Linked DNA regions of Homo sapiens. The protein of the gene in region 2 interacts with the protein of the main gene of each other region in a biochemical or structural test. Each region holds a gene or a part of one and is shown on either strand. Other genes may lie near its edges.

Evidence for each region.
Region 1: the proteins of CCNT1 (region 2) and AHR form a complex in vitro, tested with the Homo sapiens proteins (one study listed by BioGRID).
Region 3: the proteins of CCNT1 (region 2) and PURA form a complex in vitro, tested with the Homo sapiens proteins (one study listed by BioGRID).

The regions. Positions count from the first base shown.
Region 1 is NC_000007.14:17,340,839-17,348,744, forward strand, and holds the end of AHR (aryl hydrocarbon receptor), read left to right. Parts: intron 1-2,082; coding exon 2,083-2,226; 3' UTR 2,227-5,309; downstream 5,310-7,906. UniProt on the Homo sapiens protein: Ligand-activated transcription factor that enables cells to adapt to changing conditions by sensing compounds from the environment, diet, microbiome and cellular metabolism, and which plays important roles in development, immunity and cancer.
Region 2 is NC_000012.12:48,696,783-48,708,692, forward strand, and holds part of CCNT1 (cyclin-T1), read right to left. Parts: intron 9,115-11,910; coding exon 8,986-9,114; intron 4,292-8,985; coding exon 4,231-4,291; intron 3,059-4,230; coding exon 2,996-3,058; intron 1,402-2,995; coding exon 1,356-1,401; intron 1-1,355. UniProt on the Homo sapiens protein: Regulatory subunit of the cyclin-dependent kinase pair (CDK9/cyclin-T1) complex, also called positive transcription elongation factor B (P-TEFb), which facilitates the transition from abortive to productive elongation by phosphorylating the CTD (C-terminal domain) of the large subunit of RNA polymerase II (RNA Pol II).
Region 3 is NC_000005.10:140,104,802-140,117,108, forward strand, and holds the start of PURA (transcriptional activator protein Pur-alpha), read left to right. Parts: upstream 1-9,307; 5' UTR 9,308-9,380; coding exon 9,381-10,349; 3' UTR 10,350-12,307. Other genes in the region: uncharacterized protein LOC124900193, read right to left, coding at 3,258-4,184. UniProt on the Homo sapiens protein: This is a probable transcription activator that specifically binds the purine-rich single strand of the PUR element located upstream of the MYC gene. May play a role in the initiation of DNA replication and in recombination.

The DNA.
Region 1 (7,906 bases), on a different chromosome or scaffold from region 2:
TTTCTGGCTTTCTTAAAAGAGGTAACTCAGCTGGCTTTCTGTCATGGAAATCAAGCTTGATAGTGCATTTTTGTTGTTTAAATGTGTCATCAGAATCCGTCTGGCAGTGAGCACACTTTAAATCTAAAAATGATCACTTAAAAAAAAAAAGTTAACATAATGTCAGTAACTGCTGTCTCTGGCCACTCAGGAATACATCATGTTTGCATTTATGCTTTTTCCATTAGAAAATATTTAGTTCATTTTAAAGTATATTTAAGTTTAGTTTTAAAGAATATCTTGACTAAAATTAAGCTCCTTGACCCCTGTTTACTCTGTATTAGAGTATAATAATTAAAAGTATGACCTGAAGCTTTATCTTTAATTGTATTTTCTGGCTTTTTCATACATTTTGCTTGTCTAATCGTATATGAGCTTTTTAATAGAAAAGGACAGTGAAAATTTTTCTTATTCCTTACATCCTTCAATTATATTAAAATTGAATAATATTCAGTTATAGTCCGTCTCACAAAATTGCTATGAAAGTATATTTTACTCTTGAGTAAAGCAAATTGTACAGAAGTTAATTCTGTAAAATTACATTTTGAATAAGGAGTTGCATGAGTACCACATAAGTTCTTTGCAGTGTTTTCCCCTCACTACTTTTCACTGCTTCTTTGTAAATAACCAAATAATTCTATAGACCTACATATGTTCCAGAGTACATGTTATTGAGCTAAGACACTCAATATTGAGCCACTGAGTAGCTGTTCAGCACTTGAAATGTGGCTAGTCCAAATTGAGATGTGCTGTGTGAAGTACACATTGGATTTTTGGATTTTGAAGACTTGGCTTGAAAAAAGAATGTAAAATATCTCATCTTTTATTATTGATTTCATGTTGAAATGATTAGTTTTTTCAGTAGCCGCATTACAAAAGTAAAAAGAAACAGGTAAAATTAACTTTAGAAATGTATTTTATTTAATCTACTGTAGCCAAAAATTTAAGTTCTGTATGTGGCTCACATTATATTTCTATTGGATTACACTGCTGTGTACAGTATGTTTAAAGAGAATGGTGACATGAATTGTGTTATGAGTAATGAGAAAAAATCATTTTAAACTCACCATTATCTGGCCAGGTAATACTAACTTTTTATTTAAAGAATTTACAGTGTTGCCATTCATTGAAGATACAGGTTATATGATTTTTACTATAGATTTTATATATGTTTTGGAGGATCTGTGAAGTAATTAACATTTTGATTACTGAAGCCAGTTATGTAGGCTTTACAAAGGTAGATTTTATTTGAAGCAATTAAGGATATGATTTTAATCTGTTTTAAAGTTTCCAGAACGTCCACTAACTAAAATATAAAGGCTCTGTAATCTATAAAACTCTACAGAGCTATACATCTTCATGTCCTTCCTTTTTATTTTTCTTTTTTCTACTAGCAGTTATAGAAACCAGATTCATTGCAGTGTAAGAAAACAAGACAGAGCATTTTCTTTTGGTAACTTGATTCTGTAATTAGAACTATGCTTTCAGTAGTATTCATTAATTAAAAGTATATTATGAATAAGAAATCGGTTAAGAAAATCATACCTGTGGTGTAATATTTTAGGAATATTTAGAAACATTTAGAAAATCAGAAGCTGCCTTTTTTGGAAAAGTTTTGCATTCCAGTGTAAGATTCCTGAATATAATCAATTCATTGATACCTATAACTTCAAACCTGGTCAAAGCAAACCTACTTATGATAGAGAATATTTAACTGTAATTTGTGACTTGTGCTGTTTGACCCATCAATTCCTACCTGACCCAAAGGCAATCTGAAATGAGACAGCTGCATCACTCATCTGTACCATGTTCAAAATTTCCTGTCAAATTAATGGAAAAACAGGTTATAAATGCAACTAATACATAATATGTCCTCAGTATGTCTTCACTGTGTGAAAGATTTAAAATTTAGCAACAGTAAAGGAACTTGAAGTTTACAACTCTCAGGGGTAAGATTTTAAAAATACATGTTAATGTTATTTACTGGCTTAAGATACTTGGAAGATCTATTCCAATAAGTTGCATCACCATTTTTGTTTTCAGTTTCAGAATGGAGTTTTAAATGAAACATATCCAGCTGAATTAAATAACATAAATAACACTCAGACTACCACACATCTTCAGCCACTTCATCATCCGTCAGAAGCCAGACCTTTTCCTGATTTGACATCCAGTGGATTCCTGTAATTCCAAGCCCAATTTTGACCCTGGTTTTTGGATTAAATTAGTTTGTGAAGGATTATGGAAAAATAAAACTGTCACTGTTGGACGTCAGCAAGTTCACATGGAGGCATTGATGCATGCTATTCACAATTATTCCAAACCAAATTTTAATTTTTGCTTTTAGAAAAGGGAGTTTAAAAATGGTATCAAAATTACATATACTACAGTCAAGATAGAAAGGGTGCTGCCACGGAGTGGTGAGGTACCGTCTACATTTCACATTATTCTGGGCACCACAAAATATACAAAACTTTATCAGGGAAACTAAGATTCTTTTAAATTAGAAAATATTCTCTATTTGAATTATTTCTGTCACAGTAAAAATAAAATACTTTGAGTTTTGAGCTACTGGATTCTTATTAGTTCCCCAAATACAAAGTTAGAGAACTAAACTAGTTTTTCCTATCATGTTAACCTCTGCTTTTATCTCAGATGTTAAAATAAATGGTTTGGTGCTTTTTATAAAAAGATAATCTCAGTGCTTTCCTCCTTCACTGTTTCATCTAAGTGCCTCACATTTTTTTCTACCTATAACACTCTAGGATGTATATTTTATATAAAGTATTCTTTTTCTTTTTTAAATTAATATCTTTCTGCACACAAATATTATTTGTGTTTCCTAAATCCAACCATTTTCATTAATTCAGGCATATTTTAACTCCACTGCTTACCTACTTTCTTCAGGTAAAGGGCAAATAATGATCGAAAAAATAATTATTTATTACATAATTTAGTTGTTTCTAGACTATAAATGTTGCTATGTGCCTTATGTTGAAAAAATTTAAAAGTAAAATGTCTTTCCAAATTATTTCTTAATTATTATAAAAATATTAAGACAATAGCACTTAAATTCCTCAACAGTGTTTTCAGAAGAAATAAATATACCACTCTTTACCTTTATTGATATCTCCATGATGATAGTTGAATGTTGCAATGTGAAAAATCTGCTGTTAACTGCAACCTTGTTTATTAAATTGCAAGAAGCTTTATTTCTAGCTTTTTAATTAAGCAAAGCACCCATTTCAATGTGTATAAATTGTCTTTAAAAACTGTTTTAGACCTATAATCCTTGATAATATATTGTGTTGACTTTATAAATTTCGCTTCTTAGAACAGTGGAAACTATGTGTTTTTCTCATATTTGAGGAGTGTTAAGATTGCAGATAGCAAGGTTTGGTGCAAAGTATTGTAATGAGTGAATTGAATGGTGCATTGTATAGATATAATGAACAAAATTATTTGTAAGATATTTGCAGTTTTTCATTTTAAAAAGTCCATACCTTATATATGCACTTAATTTGTTGGGGCTTTACATACTTTATCAATGTGTCTTTCTAAGAAATCAAGTAATGAATCCAACTGCTTAAAGTTGGTATTAATAAAAAGACAACCACATAGTTCGTTTACCTTCAAACTTTAGGTTTTTTTAATGATATACTGATCTTCATTACCAATAGGCAAATTAATCACCCTACCAACTTTACTGTCCTAACATGGTTTAAAAGAAAAAATGACACCATCTTTTATTCTTTTTTTTTTTTTTTTTTGAGAGAGAGTCTTACTCTGCCGCCCAAACTGGAGTGCAGTGGCACAATCTTGGCTCACTGCAACCTCTACCTCCTGGGTTCAAGTGATTCTCTTGCCTCAGCCTCCCGAGTTGCTGGGATTACAGGCATGTGCCACCATGCCCAGCTAATTTTTGTATTTTTAGTAGAAACGGGTTTCACCATGTTGGCCAGACTGGTCTCAAACTCCTGACCTCAGGTGAGCCTCCCACCTTGGCCTCCCAAAGTGCTGGGATTACAGGCGTGAGCCACTGCATTCAGCTCTTCTTTTCTTTAGATATGAGAGCTGAAGAGCTTAGACACATTTTGCATGTATTATTTGAAAATCTGATGGAATCCCAAACTGAGATGTATTAAAATACAATTTTTGGCCGGGTGCAGTGGCTCACGCCTGTAATCCCAGCACTTGGGGAGGGCGAGGAGGGTGGATCACGAGGTCAAGAGATGGAGACCATCCTGACCAACATGGTGAAACCCTGTCTCTACTAAAAATACAGAAATTAGCTGGGCATGGTGGCGTGAGCCTGTAGTCCTAGCTACTCAGGAGGCTGAGGCAGGAGAATAGCCTGAACCTGGGAATCGGAGGTTGCAGAGCCAAGATCGCCCCACTGCACTCCAGCCTGGCAATAGACCGAGACTCCGTCTCCAAAAAAAAAAAAAATACAATTTTTATTTCTTTTACTTTTTTTAGTAAGTTAATGTATATAAAAATGGCTTCGGACAAAATATCTCTGAGTTCTGTGTATTTTCAGTCAAAACTTTAAACCTGTAGAATCAATTTAAGTGTTGGAAAAAATTTGTCTGAAACATTTCATAATTTGTTTCCAGCATGAGGTATCTAAGGATTTAGACCAGAGGTCTAGATTAATACTCTATTTTTACATTTAAACCTTTTATTATAAGTCTTACATAAACCATTTTTGTTACTCTCTTCCACATGTTACTGGATAAATTGTTTAGTGGAAAATAGGCTTTTTAATCATGAATATGATGACAATCAGTTATACAGTTATAAAATTAAAAGTTTGAAAAGCAATATTGTATATTTTTATCTATATAAAATAACTAAAATGTATCTAAGAATAATAAAATCACGTTAAACCAAATACACGTTTGTCTGTATTGTTAAGTGCCAAACAAAGGATACTTAGTGCACTGCTACATTGTGGGATTTATTTCTAGATGATGTGCACATCTAAGGATATGGATGTGTCTAATTTAGTCTTTTCCTGTACCAGGTTTTTCTTACAATACCTGAAGACTTACCAGTATTCTAGTGTATTATGAAGCTTTCAACATTACTATGCACAAACTAGTGTTTTTCGATGTTACTAAATTTTAGGTAAATGCTTTCATGGCTTTTTTCTTCAAAATGTTACTGCTTACATATATCATGCATAGATTTTTGCTTAAAGTATGATTTATAATATCCTCATTATCAAAGTTGTATACAATAATATATAATAAAATAACAAATATGAATAATATGTTTTAATGTAAATTCTTTCTGGTCCACGTAAAGGAAATTATTTATTCTGTAGTATTATAACTATGTTAGATGAGGGCAATCTACAATACTTAGGGATATGTTAAGTCAGTAATTCATAAACTTCTTATACAATTTTGCCCCCCAATGTCTGACCTTTATCTGGATATAAAAAACACTCTCAGTAGCTTCATAAATTAAAATGCTTCTGAAATGAACTTTTTTAAAGCCCTGTGTTATCAGTGTAGTAGTGTGTCTTAGATTAAAATCCAAAATCCTATTTTAATATTTTAAGAATATTTCTGAAGAAATTCGAAATAACCCTTGTTAGCTGTATTTTGTGCTTAGTTTAGAAAAACCATTGCCCAAACTTAGTATTTCTGTTTAATAAGTATAAATGATACAGAAGCCTTTGGCCTTAAATTCATAACTGTTGAACATTCATGGAAAACCCTGCAATTAGAATTGATTGAAGAAGAATTCCTGAGAAAATGTTTTCATTCTTGTGACAGTTATTTTTCTATTAGTTTTATATTTGTTCTTTACAATTAGGCATTTTTCTCAACTAGCATATCATAAGTTAGCATCATACTTAATTCTGAACATTTTAGACTAATCCTGAGTCTTTAAGAATTACATAAAATATTTAGTTTTAACTATTTGATCTGAAAAAAATCAAGTAAAAATCCTGATAACCTGAGTGCATCTCTGCTTGCGCTTAGGTGATTTCTGTCACCATGAATGACTCTAGCTTGTCCAATTTCACCAGCTCTACCAAACACCGACCCAGGGATGTTGGCCACTGACAGGGCTGGATGACATCTCTCATTTCTTTCACTGTCTGCAGATGACCTTGCTTCCGTTTTTACTAATAAAATCAAGGATATCATCCTAAGTTTGTACCTTCACCTCAGCAATTCCTCTATCCTTGGACTTACCTCCAGTATGTGAGGAGGAGAGTTTCCTGAACTCCAGGGTTAGCCCCCGTCCTCTCTCGTTCTCATGCACACAGCTTCGACACCTGCTTTCTGAGAGGCTCTCCTTCTCTGTAGGATTTCCTGTGAATAGGTCCTCCTCCATCCTGGAAAAAAATTACTTGAACCTGCACTTTCTTCTCTATTAAATTACTTCTTTACCTTCTTCCTTTGTAACAACAGTTTTGATCTCCTGAGATCTGGTTTTGTTTTCCATCCTTCCATTATATTGCAGTGTTGCGGTTCACTAAACTTCTTACCATAGGCTCATTTTCTATGGCCCTGCAACCAAACTGATTACACTTTCAATGAACTTTTTTCTTCCCTTCCATGACATTAGTTGTCCTGTAAGCTCCTATTATCCCTTTTCTTTCCTTTGTTAACCACTCTTTCCTCCTCCCACCTGGCAGCAGGCTTAGTTTTGACCATTTGTGGCTCTTTCTGTACATACTGTCTAAGAAGAAGTGATTCAATGCCTTACCTCTGATTGACATTTGTGAAGCAATTCTTTCCCTGAGAGAGCAGCATAGCATAGCCAAACTAAACACACAGACTCTGGAGTCAGACTACTAGGTATAAATCCTGGCTTTGCCACAAATAAGATGTCATTGAGAAGGTTTCTTACTTTCTCTTAGCCTAAGATGCCTTTTCTGTAAACTAAGGCTAACAGTACCTGCCTCACTGGATTGCTGGAGGATTCAGTGATTTATATAAAATCACTTAGCTGCCAGTAGCCAAAACTGGAATAATTTGAGCAACTAAATAAGTGATGATAGCATTAGATTACAGCACAAAGAATAAAGTAAATATCCATGAATCCATACTAATATAAATAAAATGGTTGAAAAATAAATGGGGGAGAAGGAGCACATCTTTCCTATAGAAGAATCCCAAATAATATTGGTAGCTACTATGCCCTCTGATGCATGAGCTTAGTTCTCCTCCCCTGGAAGGATGAGTTAGACTTAATGACTTGCTTTCAAGGAATAGAGTACAGACAGAGAAGAAAATAACTTTACATTGTTGAAATCTGGCAAGCACTACTTTAACCAAGTAATCAAGGTTAACATCACCAGTGAAAAGTCATGTTGATATAACATGTATTATCTGATATGATACTTTGAGAAGTGTACATCTCAAAGCTCCCTGATTTTCTTAAAAACACATAGTCTAATTATGACAAAACATCAAACGCAAATTCAGGGACATTCCACAAAATTTCTGAGAGGATTTTTTAAAGTGTCACTGTCACAGAAAGAGACTGAATAATTATCACAGAGCAGAGGAGGCTAAGGAGGCATGATGACTGAACTTAATGTGATATCTCCGATTGCATCCTTCATAGAAAAAGGGCATTACTGAGAATCTGCAGAACTCTAAGTCTAGTTAATAGTACCACATCATTGTTAATTTTTTGGTTTTGACCAATGTACCATGGCTATACTACGTTAGAGGTACCTGGCTGAAGAGAGTAAAGGAACTCTATATCCTTTTGACTTTTCTGTAAATCTAAAATTATTCCACAGTAGATTTTACTTTTTAATAAAAGTACAGTTTTTATTGCCACATAGCAAGTATCTTTATGTCTCTCATTACTATTTTCCTGTATCTTCACAACC
Region 2 (11,910 bases):
CATTAACTAACAATGTTGGGCAAGTCATTTGGTAATACAAGTTATGTACTAATCATTTACTTTTTTTAGACAGAGTCTCTCTCTCTGTCACCCAGGCTGCAGTGCAGTGGGGCAATCTCGGCTCACAGCACCCTCTGCCTCCTGGGTTCAAGCAATTCTCGTGCCTCAGCCTCCCGAGTAGCTGGTACTACATGCATGTGCCACCTTGCCCTGCCAATTTTCGTATTTTTTAGTAAAGATGTGGTTTCACCATGTTGGCCAGGTTGGTCTCGAACTCCTAGCCTCAAGTGATCCACCAGCCTCAGCCTGGGATTACAGGTATGAGCCACTGTGCCCAGTCTCATTTACTTTTTTTAAAAAGGGAAGAAGGAAAAAGACTGAAACTCTTAACATCCATAAGTGCCCATTGATTGATAGAGGGGGAAGAAAAAGGAATATTTTAAAATATAATTATTGGCCAGGCACAGTGGTTTACACCTGTAATCCCAGCACTTTGGGAAGCCAAGGCAGGCGGATCACTTGAGGCCAGGAGTTTGAGACCAGCCTAGTCAACATAGCGAAACCCCATCTCTACTGAAAATACAAAAAAATTAGCGGGGCATGGTGGCGCCAGTCTATAATCCCAGCTTAGTGAAGAGGCTGAGGCCGGAGAATCACTTGAACCCGGGAGGCAGAGGTTGCAGTGAGCCAAGATCGCACCACTTCAGTCCAGCCTGGTAGACAGAGTGAGACTCTGTCTTAAAAAAAAAAAAATATATATATATATATATATATATGCCTGTAATCCCAGCACTTTGGGAGGCTGAGGTGGGCAGATCACGAGGTCAGGAGATCGAGACCATCCTGGTTAACAAGGTAAAACCCCATCTCTACTAAAAACACAAAAATTAGCTGGGCGTGGTGGCGGGTACCTGTAGTCCTAGCTACTCGGGAGGCTGAGGCAGGAGAATGGTGTAAACCTGGAAGGTGGAGCTTGCAGTGAGCTGATATTGTGCCACTGCACTCCAGCCTGGGCAACAGAGCAAGACTCTGTCTCAAAAAATAATAATAATAATTTAAAAAAAAAAAAAAAAATATATATATATATATATATATACACATATAATTATTGCAGAATACTCCAAATTAGATTTTCAGTCACTATCATGCAGAACTGAGTAGGTTATCAAAAAAATCAGTACTAAATAATTACATAACCTTAGAAAATTAAAAAGTACCATGGAAATTTAAAGTACAACATGAAAACTGTGCAGAAAAATCAACATTCACCAGAGAATTATCTATAGCACACTGTATCAAACTCAAGTAAAGTCCTATACCAAAAATCGAAGAGAAAAAAAAATTAAAATATAAACCTGTTGGTTGCCATGAAGTAAGAAGTCTGTGCTAAGTCCTTGCTTGCTAAAGAAAAAAAAAAAAAGTCAGGGGTGGGGGAGGAAAAAAGTTATTAGTTCCATTCATTCTCAACAAATATTTAGTAAGCATTTAATATTTGCAAGGTACTGTGAATATAGTGGCAAATGAGACACACATGGTCCCTGTAAACCTGACGTTTACATTCTGCCAAAGTAGACAGATCAATGATTTTTAATTTTAACATTAATAACTATGCTGCTTCCAGATCTAGGTACTCAAGCTTTATTCTGCACACCACATATCTGAGGTACTTGTTTAAATGCAATTCTTGGACCTGCTCCCTAAAATTTAATTAAATGTTTGGAGAAGGGTGCAAGCATTTTTTAACAAGTAACCCAGAGATTCTGATGTAAGGATTCACTGAGAATCACTAAACTACAGGATGAACTAAGATGATCTAGAAGCAAGATCAGAATCTAGAAGACTTTGACATATTTGGGAAAAGTGACTTTTGCTGTTAAGAAAGTTTTTAATTAAGGCTGGGCACGGTGGCTCACGCCTGTAATCCCAGCACTTTGGGACGCCGAGGTGGGCGGATCACCTGAGGTCCAGAGTTCAAGACCAGCCTGACCAACATGGAGAAACCCCGTCTCTACTAAAAATAAAAAATTAGCTGGGGTGGTGGCGCATGCCTGTAATCCCAGCTACTCGGAAGACTGAGGCAGGAGAATCGCTTGAACCCGGGAGGCGGAGGTTGTGGTGAGCTGAGATCGTGCTACTGCACTCCACCCTGGGCAACAAGAGCAAAACTCCGTCTCAAAAAAAAAAAAAAGTTTTTAATTAAGTAGCCCTAATTAAGATTTAATTAATTAATCCCCAAATCATCAAATAATGTAATATATTACAATGAAAAAATTTAACTTCTTCCAAAACAAACTGTTCTGGGTGACAAAGCAAATTTTTATCTTCCTCAGGACATAGTCTTCTCAATATTAACATACACCCATCTCTAGTCTTATCCTTGTGCAATATAACATTTTAATACTTTCAAATATAAAGAACTCAGGAAAATTTGGGAATTTTCACAGGAAACACATATTAGTAAAATGTAAAATAAGACCAATTATCAGTTTGGCCTAAAAATCATAAAAGGCACTTAAAGGCACAATAGTGTTCAGATATTCTTGATACTAAACTAAATAAGAGAGTTTCATTCAATTATACCTAATATTGTTAAATTAGAATTAAAAAGAAAAGTTCTGCCAAGGGATTGTATATCATGGAAAGTCCAAATAAATTCTGTATGATCCTCTAGGTGGCCTTTAATCAACCCCAGAATTAAAATAAGATCACCCACTCCTCACAACTTTCATAAAATTTCTGTTAAATAACTTCACAAACTGCCCAACTTTGACAAACATTCTCAAGAGGTTAGTTCTCTTTAACTAGAGATCATCTAAAAATATTACTTGTAAGAACCCAACAGAAAAACATCAAGTCAGAACAACTCATTTTGATTTAAGCCAAGTAGGCCTTTAAATTTAGCCAAAGCAGAACTATTATGTATTGTCCACCACAAACCACAACCTCTAAATGGGAAAACAGCTTGAGATAGTCTTCATAAGCTGGGATTCCTTACCTCGAACAAGTTGAGTGCACTTTACTACATGAGTATGTGGGTGATCAATTGTTAGTTCAAAGCCTTAAAAGAAAAAGTAATGGATTAAAAAACTATTAAGAAGTTTACATTTTACAAATTATTGTAAAAGGATAACTGATTGTAAATTACACCTTACTGGTTTCCACACTAAAATATTAATAGAAATTTATTCCACCAGAAAAACATCATTGTCCCATGAAATATAATTTGAAGATATTTTAAGAAAAAAGTTAACTAGAGGCTGGGCGCGGTGGATCAAGCCTGTAATCCCAGCACTTTGGGAGGCCGAGGCGAGCGGATCACAAGGTCAGGAGATCAAGACCATCCTGGCTAACACGGTGAAACCCTATCTCTACTAAAAATACAAAAATTTAGCTGGGCGTGGTGGCGGGCGCCTGTAGTCCCAGCTACTCTGGAGGCTGAGGCAGGAGAATGGCGTGCACCCAGGAGGCGGAGGTTGCAATGAGCCAAGATTGTGCCACTGCACTCCAGCCTGGGCGACAAAGCAAGACTCCGTCTCAAAAAAAAAAAAAAAAGAAAAAGAAAAAAGTTAACTAGAATAAATTGAGAGATAAACTTTGAAGAACTCATCATATATATATATGTACAAAAAAAATTGTGTCTACGCCAATAACTTTGACGTACAACTCATGAAATCTTACCCTACCTAGAAGAGAAAAATGATAGCCCAAAAGAACCAGGAAAAAAAAAATCTGTATTTTCATATTTTCTAAACTTCTAAAGGCAGCCTGTGTGATGAAAATAACAGATAATAACACAATATCATCAGAGTTGCCCATGCAACCACTAAAGCTTAAGTTCCCCCACTTTCACTCTGCTGTTCTAAACACTAGTTACCAATTTTAAAAACAAATGCTGTTACAGGCCATAACAATCCACGGAAGGAAAAACATTCTTTAGATAGTTTTTATAATTTTTGGGGGTAAAAATCACCAAAACTTAAAAAGCAAATAACCCTAGAATGAAAAAAATAATAACCCACTGGCTGCTGTTTCAAAGGTCAGCTGTACTACCTGCATTCACTCTATGGAACAGGTCAAAGCTAAACTCAGGTCTACAACCTCTATCATCTGGAAACAGAGGGACACTACAAAAACTTTCCCAAGAAATATTCTTCCTATATAGCAAATTTTTAGAATCAAATCATTTTATTGCATAATTTAAAAAAATGTTTCAAAGGAAAATAAACTTACCTAAAGTCTGCAAAATTATGCTTTCTAAAATGACCAGATCTTGAACTTGTTGCAAATAAGCCTAAAAGTGAGAAGACAGAAATTATTCCCTACAAAGGCACAATATATAAAGTATAAACAATTCTAACAATCCCTTCCAGGGAAACCAAAACAATAAAAGGCATGAGTGGAGTTAGGAGGTAGAGTTAAGAACTGAAATACAATCTTTTTTTTTTTTTTTTTTTTTTTTTTTAGACAGAGTCTCCCTCTGTCACCCAGGCTGGAGTGCAGTGGTGTGATCTCGACTCACTGCAACCTCCACCTCCCTGGTTCAAGCAATTCCCCTGCCTCAGCCTCCCAAGTAGCTAAGATTCCAGGCGCGCAACACCACGCCCGGCTAATTTTTTTGTGAAATACAATCTTTATCCCTTATGCCCATTCAGTACACATTTTCTTTAAAAAATAAATAAATAAGTAGTATGCTGAGAGGTAACAGTTTATATATGGCTACAGAAAAAGCACCATATATTTGGTTCATTTTCAGGTTAATATTTAAGTTTTATGGTTCATGTGATTTAGAGAAAAGAAAATTAAAAGTATGTATTTTTTGCTTTTCTTTTTTCTTTTTTTTTTGAGTTGGAGTTTCGCTCTTGTTGCCCAGGCTGGAGTGCAATGGCACAATCTCGGCTCACCACAACCTCTGCCTCCCGGTTCAAACAATTCTCCTGCCTCAGCCTCCCGAGTAGCTGGGATTACAGGCATGCACCACCACACCCAGCTAATTTTGTATTTTTAGTAGAGACGAGGTTTCTCCATGTTGGTCAGGCTGGTCTCAAACCCCCAACCTCAGATGATCCGCCCACCTCGGCCTCCCAAAGTGCTGGGATTACAGGCGTGAGCCACCGCACCCGGCCTTTTTTTTTGAGAGGGAGTCTCGCTCTGCTGCTCAGGCTGGAGTGCAGTGGCGCGACCTCGCCTCACTGCAACCTCTGCCTCCCAGGTTCAAGCGATTCTCCTGCCTCAGCCTCCCGAGTAGGTGGGATTACAGGAGCCCACCACCACGCCCGGCTAGTTTTTGTATATTTAGTAGAGACGGGGTTTCACCATATTGGCAAAGCTGGTCTTGAACCCCTGACCTCAGGTGATCCACCCGCCTCAGCCTCCCAAATTGCTAGGATTACAGGCATGAGCCACCGCGCCTGGCCATAAAGTATATATTTTTCAACATCACCAAAATACATTTGCAGAACCTTCCTACAGTACTGTAAGCATTTAATACCAAACATTTGGCTCCTATTAGAACTTCCCCTTTGGGGCCATGTTAGGTTTCTAAAAAGTAACAGAAGAGTTCAAAGGAAAAGGTAATAAGAAAATTCACTCAGATTTGTGCCAGCCAAAGCTATAGCCACTAGCCACATGTAGCCATTCATCACTTGAAATGTAGCTAAATTGAAACGTGCTATAACCATAAAATACACTGGATTTTTTAGACAGTTAAAAAATAAAGAATGGGCCGGGTGCGGTGGCTCACGCCAGTAATCCCAGCACTTAGGGAGGCCAAAGCAGGTGTATCACGAGGTCAGGAGTTCAAGATCAGCCTGGCCAATATGGTGAAACCCTGTCTCTATTAAAAATACTAAAAAATTAGCTGGGTGTGATGGTGGGCGTGAACCTTGGCTTGTTCCATAGAGTGAATGCAGGTAGTAATCCCAGCTATTCAGGAGGCTGAGGCAGAGAATTTCTTGAACCTGGGAGGTGGAGGTTGCAGTGAGCTGAGATCGCACCACGGCACTCCGGCCTGGGTGACAGAGCGAGACTCCATCTCAAAAAAAGAAAAAAAAAATGTAGCTAGGCATGGTTGCTCACACCTGGAATTCTAACACTTTGGGAGGCCAGTATGGGAGGATTCTTTGAAGGCCAAGAGTTCAAGACCAGCCTGGGTAACATGGTAAGACCCCTATCTCTACAAAAAAATAAAAATTAACTGGGAGTGGTGGCACGCAGCTATAGTCCTAGCAACTTGGGAGGCTGAGGTGAAATGATCACCTGCTCTTTATGAGAATCTAATGCCTGATGATCTGTCACTGTCTCCCATCACCCGTAGATGGGACCATCTAGTTGCAGGAAAAGAAGCTCAGGGTGGCCGGGTGCAGTGGCTCACACCTGTAATCCCAGCACTTTGGGAGGCCAAGGCGGGCGGATCACAAGGTCAAGAGATCGAGACCATCCTGGCTACAATCTTGCCACTGCACTCTATCCTGGGCAACAAAACGAGATTCTGTCTCAAAAAAAACAAAGCTGGCTGGACATGGTGGCTCACGCCTATAATCCCAGCACTTTGGGAGGCTGAGGCAGGTGGATAACCTCAGGTCAGGAGTTCGAGACCAGCCTGACCAACATGGAGAAACCCCGTTTCAACTAAAAATACAAAATTAGCCGGGTGTAGTGGCACATGCCTGTAATCCCAGCTACTCGGGAGGCTGAGGCAGGCAAATCGCTTGAACCCAGGAGGGGGAGGTTGCGGTTGGCTGAGATTGCACCATTGCACTCAATCCTGGGCAACAAGAGCAAAACTCCAACTCGAAAAAAAAGTTAAAAAAAAAAAAAATAGTGAAACTACTCATTTAAGGATCCATAATAAAAATGTATAATAATATTTTTCAGCCAGGTGCAGTGGCTCACGCCTGTAATCCCAGCACTTGGGAGGCCAAGGTGGGCGAATTACTTGAGCTCAGGAGGTCGAGAGCAGCCTGGGCAACATGGTGAAACCCCATCTCTACAAAAACTAGCTGGGCATGGTGGCGCACACCTATAGTCCCAGCTACTCGGGATGCTGAGGTCAGGGGGATCACTGAGCCCGGAAGGTCAAGGCCGCGGTGAGCCATGATCACACTACTGGACTCCAGCCAGGGCAACAGAATGAGACCCTGTCTCCAAAAAAAAAAAAAAGAATATTTTTCATAACATTTATAGTGATTTTAAAAGCTAGAAATTATCTAGACTTCTTCATGGAGAATTGTTAAAAATACATACATTCACATATATATCATTAAATACTAGCCAGACATTTTTAAAAAGTAGAGAATCCATCAGATGGGAAAATATTTGGGATATAGTAAGCAAATGAAAACAAACCAGAGACAAAATACATGCACACATAGCTATCTATAGAAAAGAAGCCACAAATAACAGTGGTTCATTAGTATACCTGTGCTTCAGTTGTCTATATAACAGGGGGTCCATGGCCTGTTATGAACTAGGCCACACAGCAGGAGTTGAGCAGCAGGTACGAGTGAGTGAAGCTTCATCTGTATTTATAGCCTCTCCCCACCATACATATTGCCACCTGAGCACTGCCTCTTGTCTGATCAGCAGTGGCATTAGATTCTTATAGGAGCACTTGAACCCTGTGGTGAACTGCCCATGCAAGGGATCTAATTTGCTGCTCTTTATGAGAATCTAATGCCTGATGATCTGTCACTGTCTCCCATCACCCCCAGATGGGACCATCTAGTTGCAGGAAAAGCACCTCAAGGTGGCCGGGCACAGTGGCTCATGCCTGTAATCCCACCACTGTGGGAGGCCAAGGCGGGCAGATCACAAGGTCAAGAGATCGAGACCATTCTGGCTAACATGGTGAAACCCTGTCTCTGCTAAAAATACAAAAATTAGCTGTGTGTGGTGGTGCACACCTGTAGTCCCAGCTACTTAGGAGGCTGAGGCAGGAGAATCGCTTGAAACCGGCAGGTGGAGGTTGCAGTGAGCCGAGATTGCGCCACTGCACTCCAGCCTGGCGACAAGAGCAAGATTCCGTCTCAAAAAAAAAGAGATGCTCAGGGCTCCCACTGATTCTACGTTATGGTGAGTTACGTAATTATTTCATTATGTATAACAATGTAACAATAATAGAAATAAAGTGAACAATAAATGTAATGTGCTTGAATCATCCCAAAACCATCTCCAACCCCACCCCCTGTCCATGTAAAAACTGTCTCCCATGAAACCAGTCCCAGGTGCCAAAAAAGGTCTGGGACCATTGGTCTAGAATATATCTGAGAGATATTTTATTCTTGAATTTTTCTGTATTTTCAAATTTTACTGCAACAAATACAAAACTTTCGCCATAAAATTTATGTGTTTTGTTTTTCAGACAGAGTCCTGGCACTGTTGCCTGCAGTGGTGTGATCATGGCTCACTGCAGCCTCAACATCCCATGCTCAAGCAACCCTCCCACCTCAGTCTCCCAAGTAGCTGGGACTAAAGATGTGAGCCAGCATGCCCAGTTGTTTTTTGTTGTTGTTGTTGTTGTTGTTTTTCTTTTTTTGTAGAAATGGGGTCTCACTTTGTTGCCAGAGCTTGTCTCGAACTGGACTCAAGCAATTCTCCTGCCTCAGCCTCCCAAAGTGCTGGGATTACAGGCATGAGCCACCACATCTGGCTTTTTTTTTTCTTTTTTTTAAATATAGAGACAGGGTCTTGCTATGTTGTCCAGGTTGGTCTTAAACTTCTGGCCTAAAGTGATTCTCCCACCTTACCCTCCCAAAGTGCTAGGATTACAGGTATGGTGAGCCACCATACCTGGCCTGATTTTCTTACTGTTAAGAAAAACACAAACACTAAAATATTCTTTTAACAACACCAATCTAAACTTCAATAAATCGAAGTTATAAAATTAAGTTGCATTGAAATACATAAAGATCCAGGCATGCTTGGGAGTAGGGAAAAAAAAAGAAAGGAAAAAAATTAAGAAAAACAGATGTGTAATTAATCTCCTACCTCACTTCTAGTATCAGGAAGGGATTCCTGAGGATGGAGACAAGTATGTGCTACCTTGATGACATGTTCCAATTTTTTGGGCTGCTCCTCCACTTTAGCTGCTAGAAACAAGGCTGCTGGAGCCACAGACTGAATGGAGAGAAAATAAATCATATTTATTATCAATTTATTCATTCATAGAGTAAGGTAGATCTAAAGAGGAGCTAAGTCTCAAATCAAGTTATTTGCTTGCCTCAACTTTGTCACCTCTTTACCCTTTCCCGCCCCCCCGCTTCTACCATCTTCCCCTCTCCTACCCATTAATCCATCTCCACTTCCAAATACCAATTCTTTGACAAACTGTCATTAAAAGCTGTCTATGGGAGAAGCTACTAGATGTAAGCAGACAGTTTTCTATTTAAAGTGAGATTCTTTATTAAGTTTGTATCAAATCACTCAATACATTTTTTAAGGAGTAAACTGAAATGTCCAGAATACGCAAATCCATATAGAGAAAAAGTTTAGTGGTTGCCAGGAGCTGCGGGGAGAGGAGTATAGGAATAACTGCTAATAGGTGAGGAGTTTTCTGGGGTGATGTAAATGTTCTGCAATTAGACTGTGCTGATGGTTGCACAATTTTGCGCATATACTAAAAACCAGTGAACTATATAATTTAAACAAACGAATTTCATTGTACGTGAATTATATCTCAATTACTTATACATATCGAACCTTTCAAAAATACAAAGCATGGCATTATATGCAAGACATTATTTATAGAAAGCATTAAGAGGGAAAAATTGAAGTCAATATAAAAGTAGATAACAAACTTTATAAAAGATTAAAGCAATATGACATAAATGTAGCCTGGTGATCTTGGAAACTTCAGGAAATAGAACTTTTCTTGAATATTAAGAACATTTCAGTGACTCAAAGATAGTAATGCTAAGAGCTGTATTTCACCAGGAGTCAAAGAAATACATAAATAATTTTACAGAATTTAAATATATATTTCATTTTACTGACTAGAACTGATATTCTAATACTTATTTGTAACCCTGATGTCACCTATGCTATACTTTTCTAGAGTAAGTTTTTCTCCACAAATTCAACTCATAGTATTGATTTCAGACAAGACCATAGGAGACAAAAATAATTTAAAACAAAATTTTTTTAGGCCAGACACAGTGGTTCAAGCCTATAATCTCAGCACTTTGGGAAGCAGAGGCGGGGGATCACTTGAGCCCAGGAGTCCGAGACCAGCCTGGGCAACATAGTGAGAGAGACTCCATCTCCATACACATACGGAAAAAACTGTTTTAAGTAAACACAGTGATTCTTTTCCTTCACATTTGTTTCAGATGAATATGAAGCATACTACATATATATTCCTCAGACTTTAGGATAAACAAAACAGGATCAGAGAAAAATGGATATGAACAAAGGTATGGTGATCTAGGCGTAAAGCACATTTTCAATACTAAACTGAGTAGTTAAATACATTAGATAATCGGATGTGGAACACTAGATTTTTTTTCTTTCTTTTTTTTTTTTTTTTGAGACAGCATCTCACTCTGTCACCCAGCTGCAGTGCAGTGGCGTCAAAATCACAGTTCCACTCAACCTCCTGGGCTCAGGAGATATTCCCATCTCAGCCTTCGAAGTAGCTGGGATCACAGGCACACGCCACCACACCCAGTTAATTTATTTTTATTTTTAATAGAGATGGGGTCTCCCTACATTGTCCAGGCTGCTCAAACTCCTGGGCTCAAGTAATTCTGTCTCTGCCTCCCAAAGTCCTAGGATTACAGGTGTGAGTCACCTCACCCAGCCAAGATTCTTAACAAGAGTGACACTAAAGATTTTGAAAAATATCGTTTAAGAAATGTTTATGATAAATGTATATAACTATTATGTACCCATGATAATTAATAAAAATAAATTTTTAAAACAAAGTAATATTTAGAAGGAGTAATCTGATGGTAGGTAAAACTAGGAGAAAAGGATGGGATACATTAAAAGTTAATTCAGGCTGGGTGTTGTGGCTCACGCCTGTAATCCCAGCACTTTGGGAGGCCGAGGTAGCGGATCACTTGAAGTCAGGAATTCAAGACCAGCCCGGCCAACATGGTGAAACCCCGTCTCTACTAAAAACACAAAAATTAGCCGGGCGTGGTGGCACACACCACCACTCAGGAGTCTTGTAGTAGGGTAGTCCCACCTACTCGGGAGAATTGCCTGAACCCAGAAGGCAGGGGTTGAAGTGAGCCAAGATCATGCCACTGTACTCCAGCCTGGGCAACAGAGCCATACTGTCTCAAAAAATAAAATAAAAGTTAACTTAAATAATAATTTAGGCATTAGGACATAAAGTTTAGAGCACTTTGGGAGGCCAAAGCAGGAGAATCACTTGAGCCCAAAGTTCAAGATCAGCCTGCGTAACACAATGAGACCCTGTCTCTGTTTTTTAAAAATTATTTTAAAATATAGAAAAAAGAATTTTAAAAAGTTTAGAGTAGGCCGGGCGTGGTGGCTCACGCCTGTAATCCCAGCACTTTGGGAGGCCAAGGCAGGCAGATCACCTGAGGTCAGGAGTTCAAGAACAGCCTGGACAACGTGGTAAAACTCCATATCTACTAAAAATACAAAAATTAGCCAGGAGTGGTGGCACACGCCTTTGGTCCCAGCTACTTGGGAGGCTGAGGCAGGAGAATCGCTTGAACCCAGGAGGTGGGGGTTGCAGTGAGCCAAGATCACGCCATTGCACTCCAACCTGGGCCACAGAGCGAGACTCTGTCTCAAAAAAAGAAAAAAAAAAAAGTTTAGACACTAGCAGTAGAAATAAAGGAAAAAAGAAACACAGGCATCACTTTGTAAAACTAATAGGGCTGCACTAAATATATGTACATGTACTTGCATACAAAGAAAAAATTCTAATGGGATATA
Region 3 (12,307 bases), on a different chromosome or scaffold from region 2:
TTATACCCTCAACAGAGAGGGTTCTGCTTACCTGCTTATGAAAACCAATTCGATACCATGTTAGCCTTTAAGGAGTAAACTAAAGGATTCACTTTAATAACTCCAGTATCAACAAAGAAAAAGCTGTCCTTGCTTAAACCAAAAATTCAAGATTGCTACTATATAGTATGTTTCAGTGCACATATCAAGTCTACAAGTCTCACACTTCTGACCCTTGTCTTCAAGTCCCTAAACTGGAATAAAACTAGATAAATGCCTGAGGAACCACTTCACACCCTAAACACGTGCAAACTTTGTTCAACAGAACATTTTACTGCCAAAATGGAGTTGGCAGAAGTTTGGAGCAAAGGCCCCCAGGCTGCATGATTTGTTGGCACCAGACAGCTTAAAAATCTTAACATAATACTGCAGAGTTTGAGTACTACCAATTTGCTTGAGACTCCTCCTCCAAGTTTGACTTGAGATAGATGGAAGACGCCATAAAGAAAGACTATTAACACTTCATCCTCTATCCAGAAATGCTTTTATTTCTCACTCCTGATTGTCATACCTCTATATTCCTTGGTGGTTGTATTTACACGGTAAATCAAATGGAGTCTATTTTGAAATGCATATAAATTCAATTGTATTGTGTTGCTTGGATAAAGGGACACAGGGAGAACTACTATAAATACATAAAATTAATTATGACAAAGTTCTACTTAGAAAACACTTGATCCAAATAACCCCCATATATCACAATTTTTTACCCTAAAAATGTGGGAGAAATTAAGATACAGAATTACCTGTAAATTGCTACCATTTTACATTTGGTTCAGCTTGTCTTCTCACTTCTGTAAGTCTGAATGACGGTAGTTTATCTTGTATGTGAACAATTTAGGAAAGCCAGGAAAGAAGCCAAGTAGAGTTCTCTTCAACAAGGGTCAACAATAAAGTCTTGGAAATCTTCATAAGCTTGATGCTGTTAATTAGGAAAAACTGCATCGGAATTTTTAAATTACAGTTGAGTACAAGCAACTATATAACTAGCAACTTCGAACCTGTAAATGCTTGATAAATATGCAGTACTGAGAAAGGATGGTTTGCTTTGGAAGGTTATCTTGTCCTATGTTTCAATAAAAGACAAGGTTTAAAGAGATGCTACTTGCTCCTCATACACCTAAAAAACTTTTTTCTTGAAACTTTCTAATGTTTTCCCTCCGTAGCTCCATGTATTTTATTAATGTGTCTGATAGCCTTTGTTTTTCCTCCTCTAGAACCTCCAAGTTTTCTAATTCTCAGCTATGATTTTAGATCATTAAATCACCAGTTTCTAATCTCCACAATACAGTTGGAAACATTTAGGACAGAATATCCTTTAGGATATTAAGATGCAGAAGACTGTACTTCGAAGGATATTTATATAGTAGTGCTGCCACCTAAAGATGAGGTGAATATAAAGAAGCAATTCAAAGGAAATGACCCATCACCCTTAAGCCAGTCTCATTTTCTCACCTCCAGCTAGGAATTAATAAGCGTGTTGCTGTTGTTGTTGTCATTAACAGGGAAGTTGAACTGTTTCGCAATCACTTATTTCTGAGCTTTAATCCTCTGTGCCAGATAATTTCAGACTCAAACCTTTTCTAGTCCTCTGCGATTCTTCTCAGCCATCAGGCACTGCCTACAATACGTAAGAGGCAGCAAAAGATACTTGGAAAAAAACAATTGAGAGATTTCTGGTTTAGTGAATAAAGCAGGCAATAATAGACCTTAGAGTTTTCCCTTTATCAGTGATAGACTCCTCACAATGCTGAACAACTGACTTACATTTTGATAACTAAATTTTCATCTGTAAAATGGGAGTAATTATACCTTAGTCCTACTTGCCTCGCAGGCTCAACTAGATATGCTTCTGGGAAAGATTCTCTAACAAGTGAGTTTAAAAGTCTACCACTGCCTAACAAAGAGGGATTTTGTGGTATATTTGCAAAGTAACTTCAAAACAAAATAGTTAAATAGGTTGAGGCAATGATTAAGTTTTCCTAAATCACAGTTTGACTTCTCGGAGGTCTATTTAAATAATGATAAAGATGATAAATGCAGTTTTTATTTTGCTGCAGTTATTAGCTGATCCACGTTCCATCTACGTATTCAGTGTTGCAGGATGGAGACGTGACAGCGTAGAAAGCGAGCAAAAGCGTTACCGTGCACCAAAAATCTTGTCAAACTTGATACGATTTCAAGAAGACTGTCTTAAAGGACATTTTATAATTTCACATTTAGCCCTTGCATAGCATTTTATGAAAATTAACTTTTACCCTTTCCCCCTCGGCCCAAGGAAGTCGCATTCCCTCAAAGGGGCCCGGCTTCAACATATTACACTGCGTGGGAGGCTGGGCAGCAACCCCACGCTTCCTGTCAAGGATTCCTGGGGCCAGAGCCTGAAAAGTGCTCTAGCCACTCTTCTCTATGCTAATTCTGTCCTTCCGACCCCTCTTGGCGGGTGTCTGAGGGCCAAGGTGAGACTTTCCCCGGAGATGAAAGGCCTATTGCCTCTTCAGAGACCCGGGCGGAGTTGGGGCGGGGGTGCCGCGTGATAGGGTGGTAGCAGAAGTCGCAACGACGCACAGGGCCCTAAGTTGGAGCTGGCGCAGGCCCTTCAGGGTTCTATCCCCGCCAGAGCCTGGCTTCGGCCTTCAGAAGCCAAACGAGTAATAGGTCCTTCTGGGGCGCTGTGGGCGGTGGGTGGAGGAAGTGTGGGCGGAGAGGCCACAGACATCCCCCTCCTCAGACGCGCCCCAAGGCCTGGCCCGCGGAATGTTGACGCGCCAGGAGCCGATAGGGCGCGCTCACGCGCGAGAAGGGGGCGGAAAGAGCGCGCTCGGCGGCCGCCGCGGCGGCAGCTAAAACGGAGGGACGCGAGAGCGAAGGGCGCGAGCCACGGAGTTGGGAGGAGGGGTGGGGAACGCGGAGCGCGCGCTGACGTCGCCTGGAGTCACGCACGGAGCGCCGGGTTACGCGCCGACGTCTGGCTGCCACGACTTGCCGTCTGCGGCGGCGGCGGCGGCGGCGAGCGGATCCCGCAGGGGAAGGAGGAGGAGGAGGGAGAGCCAAGGGGGCTGTGAGTGAGCGGGAGAAGCAGGGTGTGAGCCGGACTTGCCCATGGGAGGGAGAGCGAGCGAGAGCCGAGCCAGCCATCCGAGCCGCCTCCTCCTCCTCCCCTCGGCGTCCCGCCCCCGCCCGCCAGCCCGCCCTCCTTCCTCCTCAGCCCGCAGAGCCTAAGTGAGGCGCAGCTCGGCTAGCGCCGCTGTCCAGGACAGGTGTGCGCGCGCGCGCCCTCCTCCCCTCCCCCCTTCCTCGCGCCTGTCTCGCGCGCGCCCTCCCTCCCGCCAGCCTGCGCCCTCCCTCACCTGCGGCAGGACAGCGCCCGCCCGCCCGGGTAAGCCCCTCGCGACCTTCCCTGCTGCCACTGCCACAGCTCCAGGTGACGCTCGCCCCGTCCCCTTTACTTGCTCTCTCAGCCCAGGAATAATTATAGTACCATTGCAGACATCCCCGCACCCTCCCTCTTGGAGACCCAGGCGGTGCAGCAACGTTCTCTCCCACCCCCCGCAGCGAGAAACGAATGAACCCCCTCCTACTTTCAAAAGAGAACAAAATAACACGCCCCTTAAGAAAAGAGGCGATCCTACCTCCGCAGGCGCTGGAGACCACCAGTGATGCGTTTGCTTAGCAATCCCTGAGCCCCATTTCCCCTGGCCGCCTTCGCCCTGGGGCCTGGGACTGTGCGCTAGACGTGGCTGACACTCCCTGCACGGCAACCCTGGAAGGAGGGAGAGGAAGGAGAGTTCTATAACCCAGGCTTCACTGCCAACCCCTCCTCTGTTCGGTTCCCCCCACCCCACTACCACCAAATGCATACACCCGCCCAGGATGCGTTGTAAAAACAAAACAAAACCAGGAAAAAAAAAAAAAAAACCTTTGGTGCTGACATCGCAGATGAAGCCGGGCCCAAAGATGGGTGGCCCGAACAAGGCATTTTTACTGCCCCACAGCGCTGGGTCAGCTCCACAGCTCCTCTGCCTTTGTCCGAGGGCAAAAGGAACGGATGTGAAGCTGAGGGGTCTTCTCTGTGAGCGGCGGTGGGCCCCGGAGGCGGGCTGTGATGTTTGTAGGGGAAGGCACCCAACCAATATATCTGCCATAAACCTGAACTTGGGTTGGAGAGCCCCCAGAGACTGGCTGGGGTAACTGGTTCGTAGCTGTCTACCCCGGAATAAATGCCACCTTCTTTTCCGCGGTGTCTGCGGGACCCTCTGTTGGGGGTTCTAATTCGTTTTGGCCTGGGCTCCTTACATTTCTGTCCGGCCAGGCGCTTTTGGACAGCTTTTCGCAGCGGTGTCTAAGCTTGTGTTCGGTGTCCTTGGAAGGGAGGTCCCAGAGCTTTACAATAGGCTGGATTTGGTTTGACATCTTTTGGTGGACTGTCAAAGGGGAAAGGAAATTTTTGGATTACTTCAAGATCCCCCACCGCCCCCGCCCAACTGACGTTTGCGAATTGCGGCTTTGGAAATTGGAGTGTTGACTAGAGTGTGGAGAGAGAGTTGCTGATTTCATTGCTTTGAGTACTAGTAAAACCATTTAAGTATCAGCCGGAAGGGAGACAGCTATTGACATTTACATCGGTTCTGTTTGGACCTTTGGGGTACATAAAATGTCGGGTTCTCTGAATTTTTTATCGAATTTAGAATGTCTGCTACATTTATTTAACTTCTGCAAATGCTTAAAATGAAAACATTTTGGAAATGCGAGGATTTTTATCAAGTGGATTGTTCTCTTCATATATTAAATGTTTACTTCATATCTTTAATCCGAAACATTAAAATAGCATTGAAGAGGCATGATTTTCAAGATTAAGTGAGCTATGGAAAAGGAATACGCTTTTAAAGAACGATCTGGGAAATGCTGTTACTATTAGTCATTGTTGTTGTTAAATGTTAAGATTTATTTGAGAGTTTCTCAATTTTTTTGGTAGACAGTCATGAGAAGAAATGGCTAATTCCTCCACTTTGAACATTTACAGTACAACATCCCAGTTAGTTTTAATGATTTGGGTATTGAAGATAGTTGTCTGGTTTAAGACTGGTATTTAATCTAAGTATCACTTGAAAACACAAGCTCTAATGTTCTTTATTTTGGAAATTTGTGATTTTGTAAAATATTAATCAACATATTGTTTCTATTAGGAACTCTATAATCAGAAGGGTTTACTACCCAGAGGTAGACAACCTCTTTCCAAGTCTATTTTATAAATGTGTGTTGATTTTTACTTTATAAAACCAAAACTGAATTAGATTATTTCAGAATCACCTGTAGTCAGGCTGAAGAAAATTAAAGCTTTTTTCTTTTTTGTTCTGCCTAATGTGTATTTCTTTGCGCACAATTTTTTGTTGGTAAGAGTTTGTTAAATACATAGAGACAGTGGGATTAAAAATAAAGCAGTCTCTATTCTCTTTAAAATGTGTCTGTTGTATTAATAATAAAAGGGCTCAAGAAATCTAGAGACATTATGTCTTTGTAAGCATATTGTGAGGAGAAAGGAAATGTTTACTTTTTGATGTTTTTCATTAACATGGATTTTTGCTGCATATTAATTTGCTGTATATTTCGTTTTCCCTTTGTCTTTCCTACATTCTAATGAAATTATACATTTAGTTTTACAACTATTTGTTTTACATTAACAAATTCAAACAGCTGGATACTAGAACAGACTTCATTCACCAAGTTAGTATATTGTTTAGATTATTAACAAATGGTTAGAAGTCTTAAAATCCACTTATTTTCTAATGACTTTTCAGTGTTACAATGCAAATATAACTGTGAAGTTTTATTTAAAGTTTAAACTTTTTGTTTTAAGACTTCTGGAAGTTTATATTCATTTCTCCCAGATTGCCTTTTAAGGCTACTGTACACTATAGCCCAAAGAAAGCTGCCTTTCACCTCCTTAGTCTGAGAAAAAGCCCACACTTAAAGGCTTATTCTGAAATTAACTCTCGTTTCAGTAGTGAAAATATGCTAAAAATCCTATTTATCATTGAATTATTTTGGAAAGGCATTGTTAATCTTGTTTGCTTTTTAGATACACATATAAAGTAGAGAAGCTGGCAAATAAGGGCAAAAGTTTTATACATATATAATGAATAGCATAAAACAAGTACATATTTATGTGGAGAGATCTAGGTCCCAGTAATTTGCTGATTTGACCTTAAAATTCCCAGTTTAAGTGTACAAATGAGATTCAACTTGTGTTCTGTCTGGAAACTTCATCAGTTGCCTCTGCGCTGGGTAACTAAGAAGTCAGTTCTTGGTGGCAGTCACTTTTTCAGAAAAACAGGGCACTTCCAAACTCAAATCATTCGGAATCCCTGTATATAGACGTCTAGGACGGAGGGCAAGAAAATTTAGACTGCAAGTCGGGATAGGAAGGCGGGAAGTTGGGATACGAAGGCGGGAAGTTGGGATAGGAAGGCGGGGCAGTTTCGAGTCTTAGTCTTCTGTCCTGGGGGCAGCAATCAGCACGGAAGAAAGGCAGGGACTGGCAGGGGGGGTGGGTGGGGCCCTCATCGTATTCTCATTGGCCTTGTTGCTGCCTTGAGTTTTCATTAGGGAGCAGGGGCTTGGTTTGACGCAAGGTAAACTCTTGAGGAAGAGCAGCAGCCCTTCTAGATCGGATTGTACCAGATCTTAGCCTCAGTTTACAAGTGAAACATAATGTCCCACTCCATTCTCTGTGGAGAGCCTGCTACTGAGCCTTTTTGTCCCTGGAGGCGCTGGGGTCTATCCAGAGTCCTGATTGCTACTGTTCGAGCCTGGAGGAGTTACTGCTTCTTCACACGTGTATTTCTGTGCAGTTCAAAGTGCTTCAAAAGTTCCTGTGTCCCCTTCTCAATAGACTTTGGGACAGGGGAAGGAGTGCAGAAAAAATCAACACGGAAAGAGTACTACAGGGTACTAGAGGTTGCCTCCCAAATAAGGGGAAGTTCTTTATGGGGCCCAAAGTCTGGGTTTTTATCTCTTGGTGTGGAGCCTTCCCTTCAGAGAGCCATTTCAGGGACCACTGGACATAGGTGGGTGGTTCTGAGACGGGTGCACAGGACAGCGCCTGTTTGCTCCTTGGTGGCCAGGTGCTTCTTGTTTCTTTTCAGTAGGAAGTCGCAAACTTCAGCCCAGGGCTGAAGTAGCTAATGCTGAGTAGAATGGGGCTCTTTCTAAGAGAAAAAGGAAGCTGTGAATACCTAGCAGGCAAGTTTGTTCAGGAGGTGAAGAGATATGGTAAGGGGGGCTTTGAGGGTTCAGGAATCAGCAAGGCTTATTCCCTAGCCTGCTCTTGGTTTCTTGATCGTTAGTCCACTCTTTTCTAGGAAGCTGGGCAATCATATTCCCAGTTGTCCCTCGGGCTAAGAGTGAGGGAGGCAAGTCTCCTTACTTTTGGGGGAAGCGGGAGATGCTCAATGGGAATAGAACCCACAAATGGAATAGGTATACTTTTCTCAGGATAGAGGCAACGATCTGTGCTTGAGAAAGCCAGGGGCAGAGCTGTGTGATCTGTGTCTCTCAGCTGCCTGTAGAAGGTGATGGGGGAGAGAGTGGGCGCATTGGCAGGGGGGGGTCCCCTGGAGATAGGCCTTAGCTTTCCCCAGAGTGCCAGGGCTGCAGACTGCAGTGAGAGAGTACAAGCACTCAATACCTATCTGGAAATAAGCCCTAGGTTATACGTCAGGTCTAGTAAAAGAGAAATCAGGTATCTCTGAGCTCCTCTACTCCTGAGCCCCTAATACCAGAGAAGATCCTTTTTAGCTATCACCGTCCAAAGACTCACTGGTTAATTAATGGTCAGCAACTTAGCTGTCTGCATAAAAACCAGCGACCACTTAATATGTTACTTTTGGGAGTGGGATCTCTCCTTGACACAAGTTTCTGGGAAGAGTAAAAGGGGCAAGCGAACCTGCTTTAATGAATCCCGTAAGGAACTGCGTTTCCCAGGAAATTCCTGACATTTTTAGCTCATGAATTTCCGAAAGCCTGCTTGGTTTTCTCCTCCATTCTGGGTCCTTCCAGAAAGGAAGAAGAGTGGGCTAGGGTCTGAATGCTCACAGGGCCTGGTTCATCCGCAGAGCTGGCCAGCAACTCAGGCTGGGCTCAGCCCTGAGCAGGGTGCCCCCCTTCCCCAAATCTCAGAAGGAGGAGGGGGAGGCGGGCGGGCAGGCAGTCAGTCGTGGTCCCAAGGGGGACTGGCTGCAGGTTTTTGGGTGAGTGTGGAGTTTCTTTTTGATTGTTGCATGTGGGGAAGGGCAGAGTCGACGGGAACAGTCACTGCGGGCACCCTAGCCCTGGTGCGTCTACTGTCCTCTGCTCGGCTCCCCCCATCGGTGAGTGCGCCCGCCCGCCCGACTGTGCGGGGCTGCGGTTGGGGGGAGGGGGGAGCGGGATCATCTGAGGCCAGAGCCACTGCCGTGTGTGCGGGGAGGGGGAGCGGCGGGAGAGAGAGGGGAGGGACAGGCTAGGTGTCTGCTGCTCCACGCCACTGCTGCCGGCGCCCCGACCTCATCCCCAGCAGCCCCCTCTGCAGCTAAGGGTTACCACCGCACCACCTCTCTTCTTTGCCTGCCTCAGCGGCCAAGGCTCTGCGGTAGGAGACAACCCAGCCGGGTGGCGGGTGGGCCTGTCTAGGTTTGGGTTTGGGTCTTGCTGAGGCCCGCATGAGAGGGGGTGGCCGTGACTCGGTGTCCCCTCTTTGCAGGGGGCTCTGCTGCGCCGCGCAGGCCCCTCCTCCTACATCCTCTTTGGGGGGTCACTGGAAAGCAGAGCTTAGGCCCACTCTCTGTGCTTAGTATGGCAGACTCCTTCTCACCCCTAGTCCCCTAACTCCCCAGGCCGAGGCCGCCTAGGGTCTGCCCAACAGCGACAGCCACGGTGGTGGTGGTGGTGGTGGTGGTGGTAGCAGTGGTGGCGGCAGCAGCGGCAGCAGCAGCTGCGACGCTGCGCGTCCTGCTCCCTCTCCCCCACCCAGCCAGGGTTGTAGGGTGAGGGCCGGTGGGTGGGCGCCGCCTGGCGGGCGGGCGGACGGGGGGCTGGCAGCGGGGAGGGGGCGCAGGTCACGTGCCGGCGGGCGGGTGGGCGCGTACAGTAGGGCGCCCTGCTACTGTACTGGGGAGTCAGTGCCCTGTTACCGGGTCTCGTCTGTCTCGTCTCTCCCGCAGATCTCGCGAGAGTGGCTGACTGGCTGTGGGGGTTGCGGCGGCAGCAGGCGGAGCCGGGGAGGGAAAGCAGCGGCGGCTGAGGCGACTGAGGCGGCGGGCGGAGCGGCAGGCGGCGGCGGCGCGGCAGCGGAGCGCAGCATCATGGCGGACCGAGACAGCGGCAGCGAGCAGGGTGGTGCGGCGCTGGGTTCGGGCGGCTCCCTGGGGCACCCCGGCTCGGGCTCAGGCTCCGGCGGGGGCGGTGGTGGCGGCGGGGGCGGCGGCGGCAGTGGCGGCGGCGGCGGCGGGGCCCCAGGGGGGCTGCAGCACGAGACGCAGGAGCTGGCCTCCAAGCGGGTGGACATCCAGAACAAGCGCTTCTACCTGGACGTGAAGCAGAACGCCAAGGGCCGCTTCCTGAAGATCGCCGAGGTGGGCGCGGGCGGCAACAAGAGCCGCCTTACTCTCTCCATGTCAGTGGCCGTGGAGTTCCGCGACTACCTGGGCGACTTCATCGAGCACTACGCGCAGCTGGGCCCCAGCCAGCCGCCGGACCTGGCCCAGGCGCAGGACGAGCCGCGCCGGGCGCTCAAAAGCGAGTTCCTGGTGCGCGAGAACCGCAAGTACTACATGGATCTCAAGGAGAACCAGCGCGGCCGCTTCCTGCGCATCCGCCAGACGGTCAACCGGGGGCCTGGCCTGGGCTCCACGCAGGGCCAGACCATTGCGCTGCCCGCGCAGGGGCTCATCGAGTTCCGTGACGCTCTGGCCAAGCTCATCGACGACTACGGAGTGGAGGAGGAGCCGGCCGAGCTGCCCGAGGGCACCTCCTTGACTGTGGACAACAAGCGCTTCTTCTTCGATGTGGGCTCCAACAAGTACGGCGTGTTTATGCGAGTGAGCGAGGTGAAGCCCACCTATCGCAACTCCATCACCGTGCCCTACAAGGTGTGGGCCAAGTTCGGACACACCTTCTGCAAGTACTCGGAGGAGATGAAGAAGATTCAAGAGAAGCAGAGGGAGAAGCGGGCTGCCTGTGAGCAGCTTCACCAGCAGCAACAGCAGCAGCAGGAGGAGACCGCCGCTGCCACCCTGCTACTGCAGGGTGAGGAAGAAGGGGAAGAAGATTGATCAAACTGAATGAAACCCCCACACACACACACATGCATACACACACACACACAGCCACACACACAGAAAATATACTGTAAAGAAAGAGAGAAAATAAAAAGTTAAAAAGTTAAAAAAAAAAAAAAACCTGTTAACTCCAAGGGAGCACCACCCACAGAACCTCCACCAACTGACAGTTTCTCTTCTTGACTTGCCACCCATCGCTGGATGTTGTCCACTTTATCCACCATATAAAACAGTAAGCAGCTGCTAAAAACAAAAAAAATACAAAAAGTAATAACATTATATGAACTGTGTTTCCTACTTGATTAAAAAATATAAAGAACTGAGTGTTTATTTCCCTAATTAACCAAGAACTTTTGTACACGTTTAAGCTATTATTATTAAAAAGTGTTTGCAAAATGGTCAAGATTATAATATTGCTGAATTATATAAAAGTCCTTTTCATGTTGAGCTAACATTTGACTTTAGCACAAAAAAGAGATATTTTAGAACACGTAAAATAATATTTTTAGTTTTTCTCATTTTGTTACCAAATTTCAAACCTTACATGGAGGTTATTATAGTATATTTGACACCCTATATACCTGTGATTAGAGATGTGTATATATATGAGGGCTAGGCATGCTGTGTGTCTGAGCTTTGTCTAAATGTTATGCAGAAGTTTGTAGAGTTAAAGGTACGTAGGTTTAATTCATGCAAGGTAAACAATAAGTGCTCTCTTTTATACAATATGCATTGCATCTGGACCTTAAACTTATAAAAATGGTCAGTGAAACTTCTGTGAACATGAAGAAATTATTAAAAAAGGCATTTAAATGAAATTTGCTAAGTTGTGATTTTTATGGTTGGAACCAAAGTTATTCAAATAGTAAAAGGAAAAAGAAAGAAAAAGGAGATCTCCCATAATATTTTTCTGCATCTGTTTGCTTTGACTGAGTAGGCGTTTTGTCATTATTGTGTATATGAGATGTACTTGTATCGTTCATAATATATTTTTTTTATTATGTGTAGAAAGATTTTAAAAAACTAACGTGCAGCAATTTCCAGTGAACCTGTACTTGGACATCAGGTAGTGAGTCTATTTGTGGTCACTAGCACTGTCTCCTAAACTTGTAAGAGGTCTGAAGCTATTCTTTGATTTTTGCTAGTGCTATTAACTTATGTAGACCTGTTAAAAAGCAGAGCAACACAATTATAGTTATCCTACTGAGCCATGGATTCTGAGTTTTGTTTTAAAAGTGAAAGCCAAGTTGGTGTATGTAAAGGATTTCCATGTAGCTGTGGTGCTAGTTATTACTGGCTACATTATATGCTAAGTGTATTTGTGTTCCCCAAGTGTACAAGCCTTCTATCAAAAGTATGTTCTATAACTCATATATTCAAGGTGTAGGGTATGAAAATGCAAAGTTTAGGAGAGCACTTTACCAAGCTGGTGTCCTCCAAACTGAAATTGTTTGTAACGATAGTCTTTTACAGGTTTTCCTTTAAAGATGTTTGTGTGCTTTTAATTGACAACTAACTTCTTGCTGCTGTATAGTAAAATATTAATATATTTTTATCATTAAACTGCTGCATGACTATCATCTTTGAGTGAAGAGAAAATGTTATAAAAAAGATGCCTTAAACAGTACATTTTGGTTTGGAATTCTGTAGAAAGTATTTTGGTAAAAAAAAAAAAAAAAAAAAAGGGTCTTGTCTGACAGAGAGTTCTGGGGATGGAATTGTTTCTTGGCAAATCCAGCCATATAGATCTAACTGCTGTATGTATAAGACACCACCTGTAGGAGCGGGAAGGTATCAGTGCTTCTTATATTGTAAAGCATTGGCCTAGGAAGGCAAACAGTTGTCTTTTTGAAGGATTTTTTTCTGCTGGTCCTTTGGGTTTTGATTTGATATTTTTATGCTCCCTGGTTGAGTGTGTTGTCTTCGTTTTTGAGATCTACTGTATGTGTTGA